7 linked regions of the Homo sapiens genome follow. The protein of the gene in region 3 purifies or fractionates together with the protein of the main gene of each other region. This does not show direct contact. Each region holds a gene or a part of one and is shown on either strand. Other genes may lie near its edges.

Region 1 (3,500 bases), on a different chromosome or scaffold from region 3:
CGCCACACCCAGCTAAGTTTTATATTTTCTTTTGTAGAGACAGAGTCTCACCATGTTAGCCCAGGCTAGTCTTAGCTCCTGGGCTCAAGCAATGCTCTTACCTTGGCCTCCCAAAGTGCCGGCATTACAGGTGTAAGCTACCTTGCCTAGCCCAGTTTTTCTATTAATCTTTTTTTTTTTCTGTTCCAAGATCCAATCCTGGATACCACTGCAACTTTAAGTAGAAAATATTCCTTTGAGCCTGGGCAATAAAGTGAGACCCCATCTCTACAAAAACATAAAAGTAAGGCCAGGCACGGTGGCTCATGCCCATAATCCTAGCACTTTGGGAGGCTGAGGTGGGTGGATCACCTGGTCAGGAGTTCGAGACCAATCTGGCCAACATGGTGAACCCCGTCTCTACTAAAAATACAAAAAGTTAGCCAGGTGCAGTGGTGTGTGCCTGTAATCCCAGCTACTCGGGAGGCTGAGGCAGGAGAATCGCTTGCCCTTAGGAGGCAGAGGATGCAGTAAGCCAAGATTGCACCAATGCACTCCAGCCTGGGAAACAGAGCGAGACTCTGTCTCAAAAAAACAAAACAAACAAACAAACAAACAAACAAACAAAAAACCCCTAAAAGTAAAAATAAAAATTATCCAAGTATGATGGTCCATGTCTGTGGTCCCAGTTACTTGAGAGGCTGAGGCAGGAGGATAACTTGTGTCTGGGAGGTGGAGGCTGCAGTGAGCTATGACTATACCACTGCAGTCCAGCCTGGGTGACAGAGCAAAAGACCCTATCTCAAAAGAAAAGAAAAATCCCTAATATCCCGTCACAGAAGGGAAATGTATTTTTCATTGTTTTTAAAGCTCTTTAGCCTCATTTCTTCAGAGAGGAAAAAACTCTGTGCAGAGACAATATCTCCCTATGTTGCCCAGGCTGGTCTCGAACTCCTAGGCTCAAGTGATCCTCCGGCCTGAGCCTCCCAAGTAGCCAAGACTACCAGCATGTGCCAACACACCCAGCTAATTTTTGTATTTTTTTTGCAGAGATCGGGTTGTGCTGTGTTGCCTAGGCTGGTTTCAAACTCCTGGGCTCAAGAAATTCGCTCGCCTCAGGCCTCCCAAAGTGCTGAGATTACAGGCATAAGCCACTGTGCCTGGCTTCTGGAACTGATCTTTCAGGCGGCTGAATCCCTAAAAGATTTCTCTTTACCTCGTTGCAGCCCCAGGACTACTCATGCACAGTATTCCACAAGGTTCATGCTCCATCCAAACAGAAGCCCCCTCAGTGCAAAAACTAAATCATGCTATCTTCCCTACATTATTTATGTACTTGCCCAGTTATTACTTATTCACCAACACCGTAACAAAGATAAAGTAGACTTGAAGAATCACGTATCAATCGTAAATTCATTTTCTTGTGTTTCAGAGCCTTTTGTTGATGACATGCATAAATGTAAATATTTAAAATTGCTAATGAACAGCTATTTATAATGAAACTTCTTTGAGGGTGAGTCCGGAATGAAATTACATTATCCAAACATAATGAGTCATGACTGTATGTCTCACTACATCCTCACATATGTCATGTCACTCAACCCTAAAATCAAACAATGCAGGGTGGATCACAGGGAAGGAAGGCTGTTCTCTAACACATTTCTGCGACCTGATAGCAAACCAAAAAAGATTGTATGGTTTTCTTAGAACTCCTCCAAGTCAGAAGCCTGCCTGGTCTGAGGTATCTTCAAGGGACATTTTCACCATCCTATGGAACTGCAAAGCAGCTCCCTGGTCCTTTCTGAACTGCCTCGTGCTGTCTGAACTGTCCATGACTCTGGGTGAATCAAAGTGAAGATAGGCTCATGGACTATGAGTCACTCTCCCTAAAAGCCCTTCTAAAAGCATAGGATTAGGACCTCAAACTGGATTAGCACAGCCCCTGAGGGAGCAGAAGAGTTGAGCAATGCAAACTCCACAGTGAGTGCCACTCAGAAGATGAATGAAGGCCAGTCCCTGCGCCAACACATTGGGTCCCTCCACCTGTTTCCAGGCATCACCTCTTCTCACAAGTGACAGGAGCATCCCTCTAAACTAGAAAGCCTGCAATGTACAGCAACTTCAAATCAGAGAAACAAACTTCCTCATGATCTTTTTGCCCCTCTATGAATCTAAATCCATTCAGCACGGTGGCCCATGCTTGTATTCCTACTGCTTTGAGAGGCCAAGGTGGGAGGATTGCTTGAGGCCAGGAATTCTAGACCAGCCTGGACAACAGAACGAGACCCCATCTCTACAAAAATTTAAATTAAAAAGTTAACCAGGTATGGTGGTGCACGTTTGTAGTCCCAGCTACTCGGGAGGCTGAGGTGAAAGGATTGCTTGAGCCCAAGAGCTCAAGGCTACCACAAGCCATGATGGCACCACTGCACTCCTGCCTGGGCGATGGAAGAAGACCCTGTCTCTAAAAAAAAAAATGTTTGTTCATTAAAAGAAAATCTGGCCAGGTGTGGTGGCTCACATCTGTAATTCCAGCACTTTGGGAGGCTGAGGCGGGCGGATCACCTGAGGTCAGGAGTTTGAGACCAGCCTGACCAACATGGAGAAAACCCACCTCTACTAAAAATACAAAATTAGCGGGGCGTGGTGGCACTCTCTCTCTCTTTCTTTCTTTCTTGGTGTGATCTTGTCTCACTGCAACTCCGCCTTGAGAATTCAAGTGATTCTCCTGCCTCAGCTTCCCGAGTAGCTGAGACTACAGGCCCACACCACCACACCCAGCTAATTTCCATAGTTTTAGTAGAGACAGGGTTTCACCATGTTGGCCAGGCTGGTCTCGAGCTCCTGACCTCAGGTGATCTGCCCGCTTCAGCCTCCCAAAGTGCTAGGATTACAGCCATGAGCCACCACATCTGGCCAAAACCAGCTATTCTATTCTAAAATACAAGCTACTTTAGACACATTCTTAATTGATGCTGTATTAAGTTGAAGAAAGAAGACAGTTTTAGGACTTTGCTATGCAGTCTTCAAATTACCCTGCATTTGACTTTGGCCTCTGATTGAAAGCATGAAAGATTTGAGGGATCTACTGAGGAGTTCTAGGAATGAGATATACAAGGTCATGAAAAGAGAAGCTGTAAGAGGAGGGAATTCAGGAAAGGCCTACATTAAATGCTTGGGAGGAGAAGACGAAGAAAAGTTACCAGGAGACAGTAAGGAAGAATGAGTCACTGAGGTCAGGTCAGGTTGGCTTACCCGGGCAATTCTTCCAGCTGAAAAAATCCATCGCTGGTTATTCCTAAGCTGGCACCTATGTAGAAAAAGGCAACATAGATCACACAAGACTGCTCTTTCTCTTGCAAAGTAATCACAACATTTTATGCCAAAAACCAAACACTTTCACAGCCAACATAGTCTCCGTTTTGACAAGTTTTGTTAAAGTCTCTGCTTGGAAAGCTGCCAACCAAATCCTCCCTGAGTTAACATTTTTATTTTCTCTCTAGAAACAGAAGCCATGATGG
Region 2 (3,057 bases), about 20 Mb from region 3:
AAGGGGACAGGTGAACAGACCTCGCCATTACCAGAAAAGGAGAGGTGACAGGGGCTCTGCCTGGCAGGGCGGTGGGTAGAAGTGTGAGATGCTGCGCTCAAGGAGCCATTCAGCCATTCACCCATCCAGTCCTTCACTCAGTCAGTCAATATTTATTTTGCGCCTAAATCCATGCCGGGCTCTGTTTTAGCAGTGGGCCCACAGTGGTGAGCAAAGCCAAACAAAACCTTCATGTCCTAATGAAGCTCACTTTCTAGTAGGTGGAGATAGGTGGTTAAGAGACGTTTAAACATAGGAGATATGTGATGGGAAGAAAAATAAAGAGGTGCTGGGCGTGGCTGCTCACGCCTGTAATCCCAGCACTTTGGGAGGCCGAGGTGGGCAGATCACCTGAGGTCGGGAGTTCGAGACCAGCCTGACCAACATGGAGAAACCCCATCTCTACTAAAAATATAAAATTAGCCGGGCCTGGTGGCACATGCCTGTAATCCCAGCTACTCGGCAGGCTGATGCAGGAGGATCTCTTGAACCCAGGAGGTGGAGGTTGCGGTGAGCTGAGATTGTACCATTGCACTCCAGCCTGGGCAACAAGAGCGAAACTCCATCTCAAAAAAAAAAAAAAAAAAGAAAAAGAAAGAGGCTTGAGCCCAGCGGTTTGTAACCAGCCTGGGCAACATAGTGGGACCCCATTTCTACAAAAAATTAAGAAATTAGCCAGGCATGGTGGCAAGTGCTTATAGTCTCAGCTGCTTAGAAGCTAAGGTGCAACGATTGCTTGAGCCCATGACGTCAAGGCTGCAGTGAGCCATGATCACGTCTTTGCACTCCAGCCTGGATGACAGAGTGAGACCCTGTCTCGAAAAAAAGAAAGGAAGACAGATGGCAGGTGGGCAGAGAAACAGTTGCAGTGGGTGGTCGTGGGCATTTTCAGAGAGCCCTCTGTGCTGTGCTCTGCCTTCCTGGTTGTCCTGCCTCAGGGACAGTTCAGAGAGGAGAGAGGGAGAGCTGTGCGCCCTTCTCTGAGCTGGGGAGCAGGACACAGGCATCTGGCTCTGACCCGGACTTTCCTGCTTCCTTGCAGAACATCTTCGCCTGGTGTGGTGGAAAGTCCAACATCCTGGAACGCAACAAGGCGAGGGACCTGGCCCTGGCCATCCGGGACAGTGAGCGACAGGGCAAGGCCCAGGTGGAGATTGTCACTGATGGGGAGGAGCCTGCTGAGATGATCCAGGTTGGGGGACATTGGAGTGGGTGGCTGGGAGCCTCTGCTTGAAAGTGGCCAAGAGAGGTGGTGATGAGCTGAGGGCTGAGAGTGGCCGGTGGAGGGTGGCAGGGGCCATCTGGTGTACTGCCTAGGGCTGTGGCCAGCTCACAGGGTGCCCCTCTGGGTAGATGCTCGTCCTCGAGGCTGAGCAGCCTGGCTGGTGGGGTGGGCTGGACTCAGCCCTCACTCACCTCACCTCTGCTGGGTGCCCTAGTGCAGGGCGCAGTTTGCCCCACCAGAAGCAGTGGCCCTGGGCATGATGGGCTGGGAAGTTCCAGGGCAGGGGTCCCTATAAACCTGGCCTGCCCTGGCCCCTGCAGGTCCTGGGCCCCAAGCCTGCTCTGAAGGAGGGCAACCCTGAGGAAGACCTCACAGCTGACAAGGCAAATGCCCAGGCCGCAGCTCTGTATAAGGTGGGCCCCCCAAGCCTGCCCTGGGACCCGGCAGCAGGGAGGGTGGGAGCCTGCACAGCACAGCTGCATGCAAGCAGGGTGGAGGGGAGAAGGCAGGGGGAAGGTGGGGCTGGAACCGAGGTGGGAGGTGGGGAGTTATACAGGGCTGGGAGTGAGACAAGGATGGGGAGTGGGCGGAAGGCAGGCCCTCCTGAGGAGATGAGTGCACCTCACTTCCAGCCTATGCTTGGTGAAGGCTTGAAGCCAATGCTGAGCTTTTCTTTCTTGAATTCTGTGCATTTCTTTGTAATTTGGAATCCACCTAATTTCCAAATGGGTTCGGGGCCCCTGTGCTGCAGGGATTGGGGTGATGAGAGGGAGTGGGGCTGCCTGGAATTTGCTTTTCAGGTCTTCACTCTCTTGTCTGCTCCTGGGACCTGGGCAGTGGGCAGCGAGGCACAGTGGGAGGGACCTAGGGAGGACCAGCCTCCCCCTCCTCAGGCTGAGGTGAGGGCTGGTGTGTGGGGGGTGAGATCAGGCACTGTCCCTCCTCCCCAGGTCTCTGATGCCACTGGACAGATGAACCTGACCAAGGTGGCTGACTCCAGCCCATTTGCCCTTGAACTGCTGATATCTGATGACTGCTTTGTGCTGGACAACGGGCTCTGTGGCAAGATCTATATCTGGAAGGGTACGTGGCTCCTCTGTAACAGCCTGAGATGCCTGTAGCTGCTCTGACCCGGGCAGGCTTCCCTTTGCAGGACTCAGCCTGTCTAGCTGCTTGTAAAAGACAGCCTCAGGAAGCCTGCATGCTTCTGGCTGACCATTTTCTCTCTTTAAAAATTTTTTTTAAAAGATAGAGATGGGTTCTTTCTATGTTGCCCAGGATGGTATCAAACTCTCAGCCTCCAGTGATCTTCACCTTGGCCTCCCAAAGTGCTGGGATTACAGGCGTGAGCCATGGCATAGGCCTTGCTATTTTCTTTCTTTCTTTCTTTCTTTCTTTTTGAGAAGGAATCTTGCTCTGTTACCCAGGCTGGAGTGCAGTGGCACGATCTTGGCTCACTGCAACCTCTGCCTCCTGGGTTCAAGCAATTCTCCTGCCTTAGCCTCCCGAGTAGCTGGGAGTACAGGTGCGTGCCACCACACCTGGCTAATTTTTGTATTTTTAGTAGAGATGGGGTTTCACTACCAGGCTGGTCTCGAACTTCTGACCTCAAGTGATGCACCGGCCTCGGCCTCCCAAAGTGCTGGGATTACAGATGTGAGCCACTGCCTCGCCATTTTCTCTTTGCTGTTCCCACCTCCTAAATTCTAGACAATGGCTCTGAAACTACAGCAAGCCTCAGAATCACCCCACGGCCTGTTTAGATGGCTGGGCTCCACCCCCATAGATTCTGA
Region 3 (3,500 bases):
AGTCCCTGTGAGCGGGAGCAGGGCAGGGGATCAGAGAGCTGGAAAGAGGACTGCAGAGAATGACGGGAGCTGCAGGGCAGCTGGCTGGGCTTGCGTCAGCACTGCTGCATGTTCAGAGAGCTTGAAGTGAAAGGCTGCTATCACTGTCACTTCCTCATCTCAAGTTGTCTGAACATGGAACAGTGCTGCTTCATGAGAGCTTAAGTTCCTAATACTTGGAGGCATTCCAGCAAAGCAGGGAAGACCTCTCAGAAATATTCAAGAAAGGTTCACGCATCAGGGAAGGGAAGGAATCAGAGAACTTCTTTGGTGCCTTTCAAATAGAAAATTTGGAATTCTACAATTTTGTGTCTGCCCCCATCCATGGGGGCAATGACAGCTACACACAAGTGAGACTCCAGCCCCCTTCCTTAGCTCTACAAAACCCCCAGGAGGGAGGATACCCCAGGGTTGAGGAGGAGGCTTGTCTGTAGACACATCAGTCCTTCCTGTTTTCTTCCCATCACTTGAGCAAATTACTTGGTGCTATGGTCAGAATGTCTGTGTCCCCCTAAAATTCATATGTTGGAACTTAATCCCCAGAGTGGTAGTGTTGGGAGGTGGGGAGGTGATTAGGTCATGAGGGTGGAGCCCTTATGAATGGCATTAGTGCCCTTATTAAAGAGGCCCCAGAGAGCTTATTTGTTCCTTCCATCCACTATGTGAGGAGGCAGCTGCAAGGCACCACCCCTGAGGGATGGGCCCTCACCAAACACTGAGCCTACCATGCCTTAATCTTGGACTTCCCAGCCTCCATGAACGGTAAGCAATACATTTCTATTATCTATTAATTACCTAGTGTATGGTAGTTTGTTACAGCAGCTGGAATGGACACTTGGCTATTCCAGCCTCAACTGCCTCATCTGTGAAATGAGAATAACGGTACCTACTTCATAGGATTGTTGGACGATTAAGTAAGTGACCTCATATAAAATGCGGACAGCTGGCACACAGCACTCAAACTTTTGGATCTCATCATAAATACTATGATTCCCTCCCAGTCTGGATCAGCTCTCACTCCTCTCTCAAACTACCAGCTTGCTTCAGGTGTTTATTTCCCAAGCTGGGCACCAAGAGATTAGACTATGCTGTCTTCTGTCCTCAGATATGGGTAACCTGTTCACCTCCGCCAAAACACAGCCTGCATCATAAGCCAGAACACACACTCACACACCTGCCCCACCCCTAAGACATCTTCACACTCACCTACGGGAGCTCATCTTCACAGAAACTATGGAAAAGAGCTGGGGGAAGTGTAGAGGGAGGTTCTAAAGGCACCACAGAGAAGGAATCATGTCCATCTACCTCGGGGCTGTGGGAACATCCCCAGAATCCCAGGTGAGGCCGAGTGCAGAACTCTTGCAGGCTTCTACAAATAGTCTCTGGCACAAACAGCTCTTAAACAACATCATGTATTTGTCCCAACCAAACATAACCACCAAAACCCACCTAGACAACATTTTTTTCTCCATTTAAGAGCTAATGAGTAAAACCCAGATATTGAAATGTCAGCTTCCAGACATCTAAGTTAGTGAAAGTGAAGTAATACAAAATACTTCTTCCTTCATTGATTAATCAATCAGGGTTGTCTTTTTTAAATGGCAGGAGTAAGCAGTTCTGCCATTTAAAATATAAATTGTGTCTCCCTTTGCGGAAGGAATAGAGAAACAAACTCTGGGCACCTACAATCAAACTCCTTTTATTTAGCTTCTTAAAAGTATAATATTCATAATTCCAGCCCCTGTCTTCAGTTAGCATAAGGGATAAACTAAACACATTTGCAGTAAAGAATATTATAGAAAGAATCAAACGCCTCATATTTAGTCTAAATCCTGGGGTAGATAGAGAAGGGGAGAGGGAGAGAGAGCTGTAAAAAAAAAAAAAAAACAAAAAACAAAAAAACATATGGTTTACTAAAAAGTCATAACTCTATAATATTTAAAAACAAATGCAATATTGTTTCATTATCTAGTAAACTGTTATTCAAGCCTTGCTAAAGATAAGCTTCCTATTATAGGCCTTTAAATTAAGGACTTGCTTTGGTAATTAAATGGTAATAATGCAGAATTACATGGAGGTAAATGAAAGCTGAAGAAGTAACATGCTAGCACTTAAAAATGACTTATCCTTAACCCTGTCTCTACAAAAAAAATATAAAAACTTAGCCAGACCTGGTGGGGCACACCTGTATTCCCTCCTCCTCAGGAGGCTGAGGTAGGAGGGTTGCTTGAGCCCAGTGGTTTGCGGCTTCAGTGAGCCATGATTGCACCACCGCTCTCCAGCCTGGGAAACAGTGTGAGATGCTTTCACACAGAAAAAAAAAGAAAAAAGAAAAAAAAATTGGCTAGGAGTGGTGGCTCACACCTGTAATCCCACCATTTTGGGAGGCTGAGGCAGGCGGATCACCTGAGGTCAGGAGTTCAAGACCAGCCTGCCCAACATGGCAAAACCCCGTCTCTACTAAAAATACACACACAAAAAAAAGTTAGCCAGGCATGGTGGCGGGCACCTGTAATTCCAGCTATTCAGGAGGCTGAGGCAGGAGAATCGCTTGAACTGGGAGGCAGAGGGTGCAGTGAGCCGAGATCGTACCACTGCACTCCAGCCTGGGTGACAGGAGCAAAACTCCATCTCAAAAAAAAAAAATTAATTTAAAAAACTATTTTTTTTAAGCAGTGGGAAAATTCTCTCCATGATCTAATTCACATGATATATTTACTTAGATAAAATATGAATCATAAAAAGATAAACTTTAGGCCACACCTCTATTAAATATAACTTGCTGGGGTTCTGAATCAGAGAAGTTTCAACATGGTAATGTTTCAAAAGGAAACGTTTCTCTAAGGTGTAAAATTCATACTTTACTGTGTGATCTCAAAATGATCGAAAATTTAAACTTTTTGTTAGAACTTCACTTTAAGGCTTACCTATAATCCTAACACTTTGAGAGGCCCAGGCAGGAAGATCACTTGTGCCCAAGAGTTCAAGACCAGCCTGGGCAAAATATTGAGACTTGGTCTCTATTTTTAAAAAAAATAAGAATATTAAATTTAAAAAATTCACTTTAAAAGTATGATTATAATAATTTAAAAGATCAACATTTTAATGTTTTCTTAAAATTTCAAAATACATACCCAGGTAGGGAAGAGATTGGAAAATGCTAGGATGCTCAAGGACCATAATTTAATTAAGCTAACCTTGCATATGCAGCAAGCACCTCTAAGTTTGCAAAAAACTAAACAATTACAAGACACAATCCCACTTCCTAAGAGTCTCCCCGTCCTATTAAGGAAATAGGACTAGAAAAATAAATCAGTAATAGTATAAAGCAATACATGCTAAGGGTCAAAATAAAAATATTAGTAATTATTTCCTACCAGGTTAAGAATATGCACATTGTCATTTTAAAGATTCTGCCACTGGTGATAGTCAGAATCTTAGTCAGCATCTTTAAAGATGCT
Region 4 (3,500 bases), on a different chromosome or scaffold from region 3:
GTCAGAGAAGACAGTGTGTTGGCTCACATTGTGGTCAGTGCTGTTGAGCAAAATAGGTCAGAGTAAGGGGGATGGAGACTGGTGGGAGGAATGCTGCTTTATCCAGGATGGGCAGGGAGGACTCGATGGTGTCAGCACTGAAGGATGTAAGATCTGCTGCTCTGGGGAGAGGAGCAGCATGGAAGGAGTAGAGTGCAGAGGCCATGAGGAAGGATCAGGCTTGACTCCTTTGAGCAAGGGGGATGGGAGAGTGACGGGAGAAGAGGACAGGCCACATGGCCTGGTGGCCTGTGCTGAGGCCTTGGGCTTTTACTCAAGTGAGATGAGATGCCATTGGCCAGTTTGGGCAGTGATGTGATCAGACTTGTTTCAGCAGGACCATCCTGCTTGCAATGTGGAGAGCAGGCTGTAGGGGGTGCTATAGGAGCACAAGGTTGGAGGCAGGGAAGATGGCAGCACTGGCTGTTGGGCCATTTGAAGAAGCAAGGCCAGGGATGTTGGCAGGGACCAGGCCAGAGTGCCTCCAATGGCTAACTAAGGAGCCTGGACATTGAATTTCTAGGTTAGCTTAGGATTTCTCATCCTCCCATCTGTGAATGTCATAGATCTCTCATTTTGCCTGAGTCTTTTATGCAATGATATTTTATTTGTAATATTTTCCCGGTTTTTGATTGTTTTTTAACAAATGAATTTTTTAAGAGACTTAATTTTTTAAGAGAAACTTTAATTTCCCAGCAAAAGTGAGAGGAAGGTAGAGAGATTTCCCATCTATCCCCTGCCCCTACACACGCATTGCTTCTCCTACTATCAACATCCCCCACCAGACCAGTGCATCTGTTACCATCGGTGAGCCCACATTACACTGACATATCCACATCACCTGAAACCCATAGTTTACATTAGGGTTCATTCTTGGTGTTGCATGATCTGTGGGTTTGGACAAACGTATGAAGACATGTATTCCACCATTATAGTATCATGCAGAGTATTTTCACTGCCCTAAAAGTCCTCTGTGTTCCCTGTACTCATCTTTCCCACCTTGTCTTGCCTGTTTCTGTTAGGTTTAGTCCGAGGCCTAGCAGAGGGAATGGGCAGAAGTTTCCAGTTCCAGGCTTCACCCCAGGCTCGCAGCTTCAAGCAGAGCCTGTCGCTTAGGCTCCCTTGCACCTGGAGTCGAAACCATGGCTCCCATTCACCTGTCTCTTATTTTCCTGTCCTTCCCACTCCTCACTCACCTACTATTCATTTCCATTTTTGGATGAGGATTCTCCTTTATTGCTTTTTAACTAAAAACCTGTTTTAGTTAGCATCTTTATTCTAATTTCTTTAAATGCTATGTCATACTCAGCAAGGACATGCTCATATTAGGGGAAGCACATAAAGTAAGATATCCCTGAGAGAACAGTGCATCTCACACCCATTCCATGGCTTAGGCTTATGCAGGAAGTGCAATATTTGGCCATATCACTTAAGTACATATGCTTATATTATGTATACTTGCATGCATATTACATTTACAAGTAGATGAATTCGTGTAAGTTAAATGGTTCTATTATATGTCTTCACTATATTAAGGTCAGTCACAATTTAATTGAAATAGATCATCCTAGGTGAATCCACCTGGCATAATTATCAGCCCTGTTAAGCACAGACACAGGAGATGCAAAGGAAAGAAGTATTCAGTAGAGCGGTGGTGCTGGGCTGAGTACCTGCTATCAGACGCAGCACTTACCAGTTTGGAAATTGAATGGGGCTCCTAGAAAACATCCTTGTTTCATGTAAATGTTGCTTTTTACCCCTCTTTCTTTGGGCCCCATCAATTTGGAAGTACAGCTTTCAGATTGAAGTATGTGTCAGTTCCTTTGTGTCCAAACAAGATGGCTAAGTAGGTCGTCATGACAGGTAACTACCAGTGCTTTAAAAACTTTAGGATTTCCCCCCACAGTTCTCAATCACTTGGTTCATTGTTCAGCAATATGGCCTAAGGGGGTGATTTCTTCATTGATAAGTGACAGGGCAGGGACACTGGAAAGATCTATTGTCAGAAGGCCTGGATTCAGGTTCAAGGCCTGGTTCTTAGTAATTTTGTGACCAAGCAATCGCTGAGGTGGCTGGGCGTGGTGGCTCGCACCTGTAATCCCAGCACTTTGGGAGGCCAAGGCGGGCAGATCACGAGGTCAGGAGATAGAGACCATCCTGGCTAACACAGTGAAACCTCGTCTCCACTGAAAAATAGAAAAAATTAGCCAGGCCTGGTGGCCGGCGCCTGTAGTCCCAGCTACTTGGGAGGCTGAGGCAGTAGAATGGCGTGAACCCGGGAGGTGGAGCTTGCAGTGAGCCAAGGTCGCGCCACTGCACTGCAGCCTGGGTGACAGAGCAAGACTGGGTCTCAAAAAAAAAAAAAAAAAATCATTTGATAAATAATGGGCTGTGCATGGTGACTCAGGCCTGTAATCCCAGCACTTTGGGAGGCCAAGGTGGGTGGATTACCTGAGGTCAGGAGTTCAAGACCAGCCTGGCCAACATGGTGAAACCCTGTCTTTACTAAAAATACAAAAATTAGCTGGGCGTCTCCAAAAAAAAAAAAAAAGAAAAAGAAAAATCACTGAGCTACTGTATCCTCATAGAGAATAATTACAGTAATGTGTATGTGCGTGTGTTTTGGTAATCTTTTATCTTGGATTTATCAAACCTACAGAAAAGTTGCAAGAACAGTAGAAGGAATGGCTGTATACTCTTCACACTTATTCACCACTTGCTTACCTGTTGTCCCACTTGCTTTGCCATTTTTTCTCTCTCCCTCTGTTTTCCCCTGAAACATTGGAGAGTAACTTTGAGTCCTCATACTCTTCCCCTATAAAATTTCAATGTGTGTTTCCTGAGATCAACAATGTTCTTATATATAACCCAGAATAAATATCTGAGTCAGGAAATTTGACATTGATATTGCCTATTAGCTAATCCTTAGACCAAATTTAAATTCTGTCAATTATTTTGTTGATGTACCTGTGGCTTTTTTTTTTTTTCTGAATCAAGAATCCAATCAATCCAGGACTGTGTGTTGTGTTGCATTTAGTTGTCATGTTTCTTCATGTCCTTCCGTCTACTCCTTTGCCTTCCTTTGCCCTTCTTTTTTTCTCCCACCATCTATCTAACCAGATGAACTTTGTCTTTCTTGATCTTGTTACTTTTTAAAAAATAGGTGAGTTCTTGTGGTTTTTTTTCCTGACATATCCTCATTATTAGATTTGGATTGTATACTTTTGTCAGAAGCAGCCCAGAAAGGATGTGTCCTTGGTCATGTCAGGAGGGACAGGACGTTGTATCAATATGTCTGGTTCCTCATTAAATTTGCAACTACTCTTTTAGCCTTTATTGTTTATTTTCTGACTCTGTTTTTTTTTTCTTTAGCCAACTCACGCCATGACTCTACTTTTGCTTCTATGTTTATTAGTTGGCATTCTGTACTAAGACAGCTTTACCCTTCTTGCCTACTTATT
Region 5 (3,500 bases), on a different chromosome or scaffold from region 3:
GACCAGCCTGGCCAACATGGCAAAACCCCACCTCTGGCCGGGCACGGTGGCTCACGCCTGTAATCCCAGCACTGTGGGAGGCCGAGGCGGGCGGATCACCTGAGGTTGGGAGTTTGAGACCAGCCTGACCAACATGGAAGGAACCCCATCTTTACTAAAAATACAAAACTAGGCATGGTGGCTCATGCCTGTAATCCCATCTATTCGGGAGGCTGAGGGAAAAGAATTGCTTGAACTCAGGAGGTGGAGGTTGCGGTGAGCCAAGATCGGGCCATTGCACTCTAGCCCGGGCAACAAAAGCAAAATTCTGTCTCAGAAAAAAAAAAAAAAAAAAAAAAAAAAAAAAAAAAAAAACAACCGTCTCTACTAAAAGTACAAAAATTAGCCAGGCGTGGTGGTGTGCACCTATAATCCCAGCTACGTGGGAGGCTGAGGCAGAATCACTTGAACCCAGCAGGCAGAGGTTGCAGTGAGGCAAGATCACGCCATTGTACTCCAGCCTGGGCAACAGAGCAACACTCAATCTCACACACAAAGAAAAGTTTCATAAAGAGTCACACATAGCACACGTGGTGCCGCTCCAAACACCACCCAGTGTGCAGCATACTTACCCACGCCCTGTGTTGTCAGGCCGGCCACCATCAGCCAGTGCCACAGTGATGGTCCGAGCGTGGTCAGCCAGCACCCGGTAGGCCATGTCAATCCCATCGGCATCCTCAGCACCAACTTTCCCAGTGTATGGTCGGGCACCTGTGCCCTATAGATAAGAATCAGGAGGCAGCCCTTTAGGAAGCAGACTTTCTGGCGCTACCTTGCCCAAGGAGGTTCCTGGAGGATTGAGGAGCATTAGCAGAAAGGATGCCGGTCTTGCCAGATCCTATAACCCCAAGAACGTGACATTGGGGAAGTAGAGAGACTCCAGCCAGCCCCTACACTCAAAAATTATACTGTCTCAGGTCTAGAGCCTCACATTATTATTTTTTTTTTGTAGTCAGCTATTTAATTAGGTTCTTAAGACATTTAGAACACCAATTTGTGGAGCCTCACATTATTAACAATGAAGTAGGCAGATGGAAATGGGTACCCTTGGCTGGCAAAGCATATGGTCATTTTTTCTTTGACAGCACTGTTAAGAGTACAGCCTGGAAAACTCCACAGAAGTTTACAATGTTTGCAATAGCACCAGTACCTTCTGAATGGCTTCAAAGTAAGGGACAAAAAGGTCAGTGTCATAGTTGGACATCTTATTCTGCAGCACAGATACCAGTCGTTCCAGGCCCATCCCTGTGTCAATGCTTTTCTTGGGAAGAGGTTTCAGAATGCCATCAGCTTCCCTGTATGATCCAGAAGAAGAGGAGGTTGAAGCAGAGACTCAAGCTGCCACCTCTCCAGTCCCTGCTGGTTAAAATTCATTTACAGAACAGTTTGCAGGCTGTGACCATCTGCCATTTGCCCGGTTTGGTGGGAAGAGGGAAGTGGAGGGAGAAAGGAAGGAGAAAGGAAGAGTTCATTCTTAAATGAACTCTGGGGTTCATTTAAGAGTGAGGAAAGGCCAGGCGCAGTGGCTCATGCCTGTAATCCCAGCACTTTGGGAGGCCGAGGTGGTGGACCATCTGAGGTCAGGAGCTCGAGACCAGCCTGCTCAACATGAAGAAACCCCATCTCTACTAAAAATACAAAATTAGCCGAGCATGGTGGCACATGCCTGTAATCCCAGCTACTCGGGAGGCTGAAGCAGGAGAATCGCTTGAACCCAGGAGGCGGAGGTTGTGGTGAGCTGAGATTTCACCATTGCACTACAGCCTGGGCAACAAGAGCAAAACTCCATCTCAAAAAAAAAAAAAAAAAAGAAAAGAAAAAGACTGGGCATGGTGGCTCACGCCTGTAATACCAGCATTTTGGGAGGCCGAGGCGGGGGAATCACTTGAGGTCAGGAGTTCGAGACCAGCCTGGCCAACATGATGAAACCCCATCCCTGCCAAAAATATTTTAAAAATTAGCCTGGCATGGTGGCATGCACCTGTAACCCTAGCTACTCAGGAGGCTGAGGCAGGAGAACTCAGCAGGCTGAGGCAGGAGAATCGCTTGAACCCAGCAGGCAAAGGTTGCAGTGGGCTGAGATCTTGCCACTGCACTCCAGCCTGGGTGACAGAGCAAGACTCCATCTCCAAAAACAAAAACAAAAACAAAAACAAAACTGAGGCAAGCTTCAAGGAAATAGGCTTTAAAACAGCAGTCCAGTTCTGGCACGGTGGCTCACACCTATAATCCCAGCACTTTGGGAGGCTGAGGCGGGCGGATCACCTGAGGTTGGGAGTTCGAGACCAGCCTGACCAACATGGAGAAACCCCGTCTCCACTAAAAATACAAAATTAGCCGGGCGTGGTGGCACATGCCTGTAATCCCAGCTACTCGGAAGGCTGAGGCAGGAGAATCGCTTGAACCCAGGGCACAGATGTTGCAGTAAGCCAAGATCACACCATTGCACTCCAGCCTGGGTAACAAGAGGAAAACTCTGTCTCAAAAAAACAAAAAAAAAAAACAGCAGCCCGAAGTACAGCAAGCATGACATTATAGGAATAGCTCGCAAGAAGCTATTATGTGCGATAAGGTTTAGTTCATGAAAGAATAGGCCCATCCTTGTTCCAGAGATCAGACAGGTAATCTGAGAAATAAAGAAATGAGCTTTTAGCTGAGAAGAGAGCTACACAGCTCCGAGTTCCTCCTCCCCTGCTCAGCTCAAGGAAAGGAATGGAGTAGGAACCCAAGGCTACCTGTTATACTGGATGAACACAAGGTTCCAGATCTCCAGCACATTAGGGTCGTCCTGGTTGACAAGATGTGCGGCGTCCCGACCACCAATCCGGTCGTAGTGGATCTCACTGCAAGGACCACAGGGGCCCGTGTCACCCATCTCCCAGAAGTTATCCTTCATGTTGCCTGGGAGGATTTTGGTGTCATCCAGCCTGACAAAGGAGTAAAGATAAGTCCAGTTACAGCCCCTGACAAGAGTTCTGCCCAGACTTGCAACCACCGCAAAAGAAATTCTTAGGATTGGCCGGGCACAGTGGCTCATGTTACTGCACTCCAGCCTAGACAACAGAGCGAGACTCTGTCTCAAAAAAGAAAAAAAAAAAATTCTTAGAATTTTTAATGAAGAAGTTCCAACCTTCAGCAAGTACTAATGCTAAGCCTGCACATTAAACCTGCTAAAGAAGCTGGGCGTGGTGGCTCATGCCTGTAATCCCAGCATTTTGGGAGGCCGAGGCGGGCGGATCACCTGAGGTTGGGAGTTTGAGACCAGCCTCATCAACATGGAGAAACCTTGTCTCTACTAAAAATACAAAAAATTAGCTGGGTGTGGTGGCGCATGCCTGTAATCCCAGCTACTCGGGAGGCTGAGGCAGGAGAATCACTAGAACCCAGGAGGCAGAGGCTGCGATGAGCCGGGATCGCGCCATTGCACTCCAGCCTGGGCAACGAGAGCAAAACTCCATCTC
Region 6 (2,629 bases), on a different chromosome or scaffold from region 3:
AAGACTCCGTCTCTAAAAAATAAAAAAAGAACAAGGGAGGGAGGCATCAGCTATGTCAAACACAAACAGCTACTGGAGTAAAATGAGGACGAGAACTGACTGGGGGATTTGCAGATGCTGAGGCCATGGGTGACACAGACAAATGAAGAAATGAAGTTGGTTACTCCTAGAGGAAGGGATGCAAGAAGCGGCATGTTTTCTAGAATCACTGCAGGAAGAGCTGCTTCCTTTAGAACAAACCAGTAACAAGATCCCTCTTCTTTTCCACACCAGGGAAGTTGCTAAGTATATGCCAAAGCCAGGCATACTCATTCATAGACAGCCTCAGGCTTCACAGCCCAGAATGGGTGTGGACTTGGGGGCGGGAGGTAGGAAAGGAGATGTGGGCACCTCGTGGAGCTGAAATGCCACCCATCTCCCAGACCCTGGGCCGCCCACACCACTCACTCCTCCTTTCCCCACAGGACTTTTAGTGCACTCCAGACAGAGCTTCACAAGAGTCAGCATCATGAACATTTATTATGATTATTTTATTTAAAAAAAAAGCCCCACATCTCCGGGCAATAAACTACAATACAGTAAAAAGTAGCATCTGGTGTTAAGACACTCTGCCGACAGGCTGCATGCCTTCAGTGCCGGCAAAGGCTCTGCACAGACATCCACAGTATTCCACACTGCCTCCCCCATTTCAGAAGTCCCTACTGAAATGAGAAGGACACTGAGGCACACAGGGGAAGAGAATGGCCTGAGGTTAGACTGCCACGAAAGGCACGTGGGAACTGGGCCCAGAAAATTCCAACCGTTCCATACAAAATGCTACCCAGCAGGGAAAAAGAGTCACTGTCTTCTTCCAAGTGACCAGTAATGCCACACTCATGGGGCAGCAAGAAGGGTGGCAAGGGAACCAAGCCCTGACCTGAGCCCAGTGATCAGGCCAGAGCCCAGCCAATGGGACTCGCCCACAGGTCCAGGCTCACCCCCTCACCTCCACCGCACTGCCCTCACTCCAAAGCCCAGCCCTCCTTGCGGAAGACCAGCTGCACAGCCTCATTCACGTCATTCACCACGTGGGAGGCCTCCATGAGCCCTGGACTGAAGCATAAGTCTCGGTGCCCGTGGAATGGAGGCTCCCCTCCTCCAAGGACAGGCTCCGTGGACTGTGGGTTCCTGGGATTGTAGACGCCTGTACACACCAGGATGGAGATGCAGCTCTGGCTTGCTGAGGGCTGTTGCTGCCGTGTGCCCCCGGCCCCTAGTTCTGGCGCCCCATCATGCGTTGCCTTCTGCAGGTACTGGTGGAACAGGTTGGCGCCGTATACGTCAGACATAGGGTTATCACTGGCAGGGGCAGCCACACCGGAAAAGGAAAAAGGAGAAAAAACCCTAAATCAATGTTGCAAAGCAAAGGGAGCAGAGAAGAGTTTCGGGGCAGAAGAGTGAATTAGATATAGGGAAATGGGGGTGAGAGTAGAGGAGGAGGGAGAGAAGGGGATGTCATAAAAGGGACAAAGGAGGGAGAGCAGAGCCTACCCCACAGCATAGAGCTTCCGGATGGGGGCGGCCCAGCCCCGCCTCTCCGCCTGTCGCCTGATCAGGTCCTCGGCATACTGGTAAGTGAGGATGCTGGGTTTGCCCATCAGGCCCTCGTATCTCAGCTCCTTGCCCGTCACTTTCTGGTAAATGGTTTCCAGGCACAGCAGAAAGGTGCCATGTCCAAACCTGCCAGAAACGAGCACGCAGCAGTTCAGTCTTCCTGATCTCCAGGCTCTTCTAGAGAACACGACTGCCACTGTCTAAGCAGCAAACACACAGACCAGCCTTTTCCCCAGGGTAAGAGCTGACATGTAGCAGACACTGTGCAGGCACTGGAGGCAGCATTTCACATTTCCCTCTCAGAAAAACTCTATGAGATGACGCTATTTGTAAAACGAGGAAACCAAGGCACAGCAAGATTAAGTAACTTGTTCAAGAGGGCAGAGCTAGGATTACAACTCAGTCTGACTCCAGAGCTTAAATCCTGCTGTAGAGCTGAGGCAGACTACGGTTGCGCTTCTCCCCTTCTTTGCTGGTGTCCATTTTCAGCTGACCATATTGCCACTAGGTGTGAAAAAGACCTTCGCTTGCCTCCCTGCCAGCGAGGCGTGGCCATGTGACTAAGCTACAGTCAAGGAAAGCAGAAATGCTGGGCTAAATTTTCAATAAGCATCCTTAAAATTGGGGACAGGCGGCCAGGCGCAGTGGCTCATGCCTGTAATCTTAGCACTTTGGGAGGCCAAGGCAGGTGGATCACCTGAGGTCAGGAGTTCAAGACCAGTCTGGCCAACATGGTGAAAGCCTGTCTCTACCAAAAATGCAAAAATTAGCTGGGTGTGGTGGCACATGCCTGTAGTCCCAGCTACTTGGGGGGCTGAGGCAGGAGAATCACTTGAACCCGGGAGGCGGAGGTTGCAGCGGGCCAAGATTGCACCACTGCATTCCAGCCTGGGCAAAAGAGCAAGACTCCATCTAAAAAAAAAAAACAAACAAACTGGGGACGGTATTCTTCTCTGCCCTCTCTGCCCTCCCCAACTCCTTCTTGACACCTGGAATGCTGATATGATGGCTGGCGCTTGGGTACAATCTCAGCTCA
Region 7 (3,500 bases), on a different chromosome or scaffold from region 3:
CATGCTCCAGACCCCACTTCCAAACCTTAGCCATTCTTATTCCTGCCTGGAATGCTGGCTCCCTCCATTCAACTAGATGAGGACTCAGCTGCCTCCGACCCTACACTGGGTACCAGCGTGTGTCAGGGGATCTCCCACTCCCACCCAGGGAAGGCAAATCCGCAGAGGCCAGGAAATAATGAAAGGACATGGAACCCATCCTTTAAGGCCCAGTTCTAGGATCGAGACATTATTAGCCTCAGGATATAGATGAAGAAACTGAGGCTTAGAGGTTCAGTAAGCTGCCACGGCCATAAAGCAGGTGGCAAAGCCAAGATTCACCCAGGGCTCTCTGACCCTGGAGGCAGATCACTAACCAGAGGGCTACATGCCCCTCGGCATGCGGGGTGCCGAGCGCTGCAGCGGGAGATGGGGCCTTCGCACATCAGGGGCTGCCACCCGCCAGAGGCTACACGTATCACTCACTACACACCCTCCTCCCTCAACCCAAAGGTTAGTAACATTTTCCCACTTGGCAAAAGAGAAAACAGAGGCCCATGGAGGCTCAGGAACTTGCTTAACAGACTTCCAATTCTCTGCGCAAATGAAGGCAACAAGCATGGATTGGAAAATCCCCACCGGCGGAAAACAGATTAGGAGCAACCACTGATTTCCTTCTGTATCACGTGCTGGTCCTGGGAACTCAGAGGCCAGGCCTGAGCAAGAGGTCTGGTGGGGCGACTGCTGCGGTGGCAAGCCAGCCTCGTGCAGAGAAGTGAGGGAAGGAGAAACCAAGAGATGGGGAGCCACAGCCATCGTAGGGAAGGTGGCCCACCCTGCACCGCCTTCCCCCACTCCTCCATGCCAGGACACAGGGAGACAGGAATGAGGCCCCGGGCCTGGCATCCTGGGAGGAGGTGCCCTGTCTCTGTGGCAGAGGTCACCGCTCCCCTGGAACTCTCTGGGCAGCAGGCACAGGGCCATGGGCTCAGAATTCTGACACAGGAGACCCAAGACGCATCCCAGGCCCCCCAATCAGCCCCACAGGACCTAGAGCAAGTCACCGCACCACCACTCCAAGCCCTGATTTCCCCATCTAAGATATGGAGATGCTAAGGTCTCCCTCCTGGGACCATTTGGAAGCTCTGAACAGAATGGAATTGGGACTGGGATGCTGTTTGTGGCAAACTGTGAAGCACTGGGCACAGTTTACCCACCCCTGGGTCACCTGCCTGGGAGCCTCTCAAGGCCAGCCCTCCTTTCTGAGGCCCAGCATCCCAAGGCCATTGATGGATCCCTTGGGACAGGCTGGGGAAGGAGGGGGAAAGGCTTATCTAACCCACCCCATTGTCTTCACTGACCTTTGTTCCTGAGCTTGGCTGGGTTTAGGAAAAGCAGCCTTATTAGCCGAGCTGCTGCACAGAAAAGACCTATTCAGAGTTAGCGTGCTCTGTCTTTTTCTAAAGGCCCAGACCACCCCGTTCCATCCTCCCTCTTAAACCAACAAAAACACAAGCAGGAGAACAAACCTGTCTCATTTTGAGAAGCTCAAAATTTTAATCCGAACTTTAAAAAGTAAATGGGGCTCATGCACAGGCTTGCTAGAATCCTAGTTCCTCCAGGTTGGCTAAAGGGGAGTGGACCGTGGAGGAGCAGGTTATCAGGGGAGGGAAGGAAATGCCTGGCAATGGGCAGGAGGGGGGCATGGTGCCTGTCGTGGGGCACAGGAGACAGGCGGAGGGGCAGCTGGAAAAAGAACTGAAAATTCTTTTGTTTGAAAATCCTATCAGTTCATGAAGGAGAACCTGACTTTCTGGTGTTGGGGTTTACCTGTCTCAGTGTGCCACACTGGACTAGAGCAACGCACAGCCCAGTCCCAAGTCCAGTCAGCCCAGACCAGACCTCTACCAAAGGCAGCCAAGGCCAGGTGCAGTGGCTCACGTCTGTAATCCCAACACTTTGGGAGGCCAAGGCAGGAGGACTGCTTGAACCCAGGTGTTCGAGACCAGCCTGGGCAACATAGTGAGATCCAGTCTCTACAAAAAATTCAAAAATTATCTGGGCATGGTAGCACACATCCCAGGAGGCCGAGGCAAGAGGATTACTTGAGCCCAGGAGGTTGAGGTTGCCGCGAGCCATGATGGTGCCATTGCACTCTAGCCTGGGTGACCAGAGAGACCCTGTCTCTAAATAAATAATAAATAAATAAATAAGCAGCCAAGGAGAAAAGCCTATTTGCATGTACATACACAATACACAGGCCCACCAGGCCAGCCTCAGCCAGGGCTGCCTTGCATACAGATGGGCCACCTCCCACCTCAGCCACTAGAGTCTGCCCAGGGCACCCAGCAGGGCTGCAACTGCCACCAGCTCCCCAGAAAGGACAGCAGGGCCACTGTCCTCACTAGCTCATCAGCAAGTGCTGCCACACAAGAGGCTCAGATGCAAACATTCAGGTGAGCTGTCTAAGCAGCAAGCACTTTTGAAGAGGAAACTGAGGTCTGTTGGGAGAGCCCCAAGGACCCTAACAACAGGAGAAACCTACTGTGTGTAGATCCTGACCTCACTCAACCTTGTGTGAATAATGGGGCACTCTGGGTTCTGTCCATCTTACAGAAGAGGAGCACAGAGAGGCTTGGCCAGTTAATAACTTGCCCAGTATACATGGAGGAGCTGAGATTCAAACTCAAGTCACCCTGAGCCTCTGGGTAACGGGGTTATCAGCCATCTGCTCAATGGTCACTGATAAGGAAGTGACACTTCCCAGCATGGGAGAAAGAGGGCAAACCTGGGTCAGGAATCAAGAATAGGGAGTCACCAGTGTCCCCTGATTAACAGTAACAGCAAACATGACAACAGACCAAGGGCACAACAGATTCAGACCCAAGGCCTGAACACGAGATGATCATGGCAGCAAACCCACCCAGGACAGGTACTTCCAATGTCAGCCACCTTCCCAGACAAGGCTAGGAACCCCTCTAAGCCTCCACTTGCTTGTCTGTCAAATGGGGATAATACTGCTTCCCCAGGGTTCCTGTGAGAAGAAGCAAAGACCAAACACATAAGGCGCAAGCCTGGTGTCTGACCCCACTTTAGACACCACCCAGACAGAGACTCATTATCTCCCTCAGCTCAGGCCCAATCTTTGCTCAATTTAAAGTTACAAGTCCCAGAATAGAAAAGCCCAGTTTCACCAGGTGAGGTGGCTCATGGCTCTAATCACAGCTACTTGGGAGGCTGAGCTGGGAGGATCACTTAAGCCTGGGAGGTTGAGGCTGTAGTGAGCCATGAGTGTTCCATTGCACTCTAGCCTGGGTGACAGAGTGACACCCTGTCTCGAAAAAAGGGAAAAAAGAAAGAAAGAACAGCTCAGTTTCTAAGAGAAGGGCCTTTCCTGGTTTCCAAGCCTTCCATTTACATTAGTGGGACCACATCCCAAGGCCACACATGGCTTTAAGAGACAAAACTAAATAATAATAATTCCATCTGTAACCGAAATTTGTAATAATAATGCTGAATTT

Evidence for each region.
Region 1: the proteins of TGFBRAP1 (region 3) and GSR purify together in Homo sapiens (co-immunoprecipitation; one large-scale study listed by IntAct). This does not show direct contact.
Region 2: the proteins of TGFBRAP1 (region 3) and CAPG purify together in Homo sapiens (co-immunoprecipitation; one large-scale study listed by IntAct). This does not show direct contact.
Region 4: the proteins of TGFBRAP1 (region 3) and TIGAR purify together in Homo sapiens (co-immunoprecipitation; one large-scale study listed by IntAct). This does not show direct contact.
Region 5: the proteins of TGFBRAP1 (region 3) and AARS1 purify together in Homo sapiens (co-immunoprecipitation; one large-scale study listed by IntAct). This does not show direct contact.
Region 6: the proteins of TGFBRAP1 (region 3) and HDHD5 purify together in Homo sapiens (co-immunoprecipitation; one large-scale study listed by IntAct). This does not show direct contact.
Region 7: the proteins of TGFBRAP1 (region 3) and CCDC85C purify together in Homo sapiens (co-immunoprecipitation; one large-scale study listed by IntAct). This does not show direct contact.

Annotation. Positions count from the first base shown.
Region 1 is NC_000008.11:30,696,847-30,700,346, forward strand, and holds part of GSR (glutathione reductase, mitochondrial isoform 1 precursor), read right to left. Parts: intron 3,290-3,500; coding exon 3,235-3,289; intron 1-3,234. UniProt on the Homo sapiens protein: Catalyzes the reduction of glutathione disulfide (GSSG) to reduced glutathione (GSH). Constitutes the major mechanism to maintain a high GSH:GSSG ratio in the cytosol.
Region 2 is NC_000002.12:85,397,310-85,400,366, reverse strand, and holds part of CAPG (macrophage-capping protein), read left to right. Parts: intron 1-1,081; coding exon 1,082-1,231; intron 1,232-1,584; coding exon 1,585-1,677; intron 1,678-2,214; coding exon 2,215-2,347; intron 2,348-3,057. UniProt on the Homo sapiens protein: Calcium-sensitive protein which reversibly blocks the barbed ends of actin filaments but does not sever preformed actin filaments. May play an important role in macrophage function.
Region 3 is NC_000002.12:105,309,236-105,312,735, forward strand, and holds part of TGFBRAP1 (transforming growth factor-beta receptor-associated protein 1), read right to left. Parts: intron 1-3,500. UniProt on the Homo sapiens protein: Plays a role in the TGF-beta/activin signaling pathway. It associates with inactive heteromeric TGF-beta and activin receptor complexes, mainly through the type II receptor, and is released upon activation of signaling.
Region 4 is NC_000012.12:4,355,713-4,359,212, forward strand, and holds part of TIGAR (fructose-2,6-bisphosphatase TIGAR), read left to right. Parts: 3' UTR 1-3,500.
Region 5 is NC_000016.10:70,269,007-70,272,506, forward strand, and holds part of AARS1 (alanine--tRNA ligase, cytoplasmic), read right to left. Parts: intron 2,967-3,500; coding exon 2,775-2,966; intron 1,335-2,774; coding exon 1,190-1,334; intron 758-1,189; coding exon 612-757; intron 1-611. UniProt on the Homo sapiens protein: Catalyzes the attachment of alanine to tRNA(Ala) in a two-step reaction: alanine is first activated by ATP to form Ala-AMP and then transferred to the acceptor end of tRNA(Ala). Also edits incorrectly charged tRNA(Ala) via its editing domain.
Region 6 is NC_000022.11:17,137,020-17,139,648, forward strand, and holds the end of HDHD5 (haloacid dehalogenase-like hydrolase domain-containing 5 isoform 2 precursor), read right to left. Parts: intron 1,720-2,629; coding exon 1,531-1,719; intron 1,339-1,530; coding exon 1,002-1,338; 3' UTR 501-1,001; downstream 1-500.
Region 7 is NC_000014.9:99,597,708-99,601,207, forward strand, and holds part of CCDC85C (coiled-coil domain-containing protein 85C), read right to left. Parts: intron 1-3,500. UniProt on the Homo sapiens protein: May play a role in cell-cell adhesion and epithelium development through its interaction with proteins of the beta-catenin family. May play an important role in cortical development, especially in the maintenance of radial glia.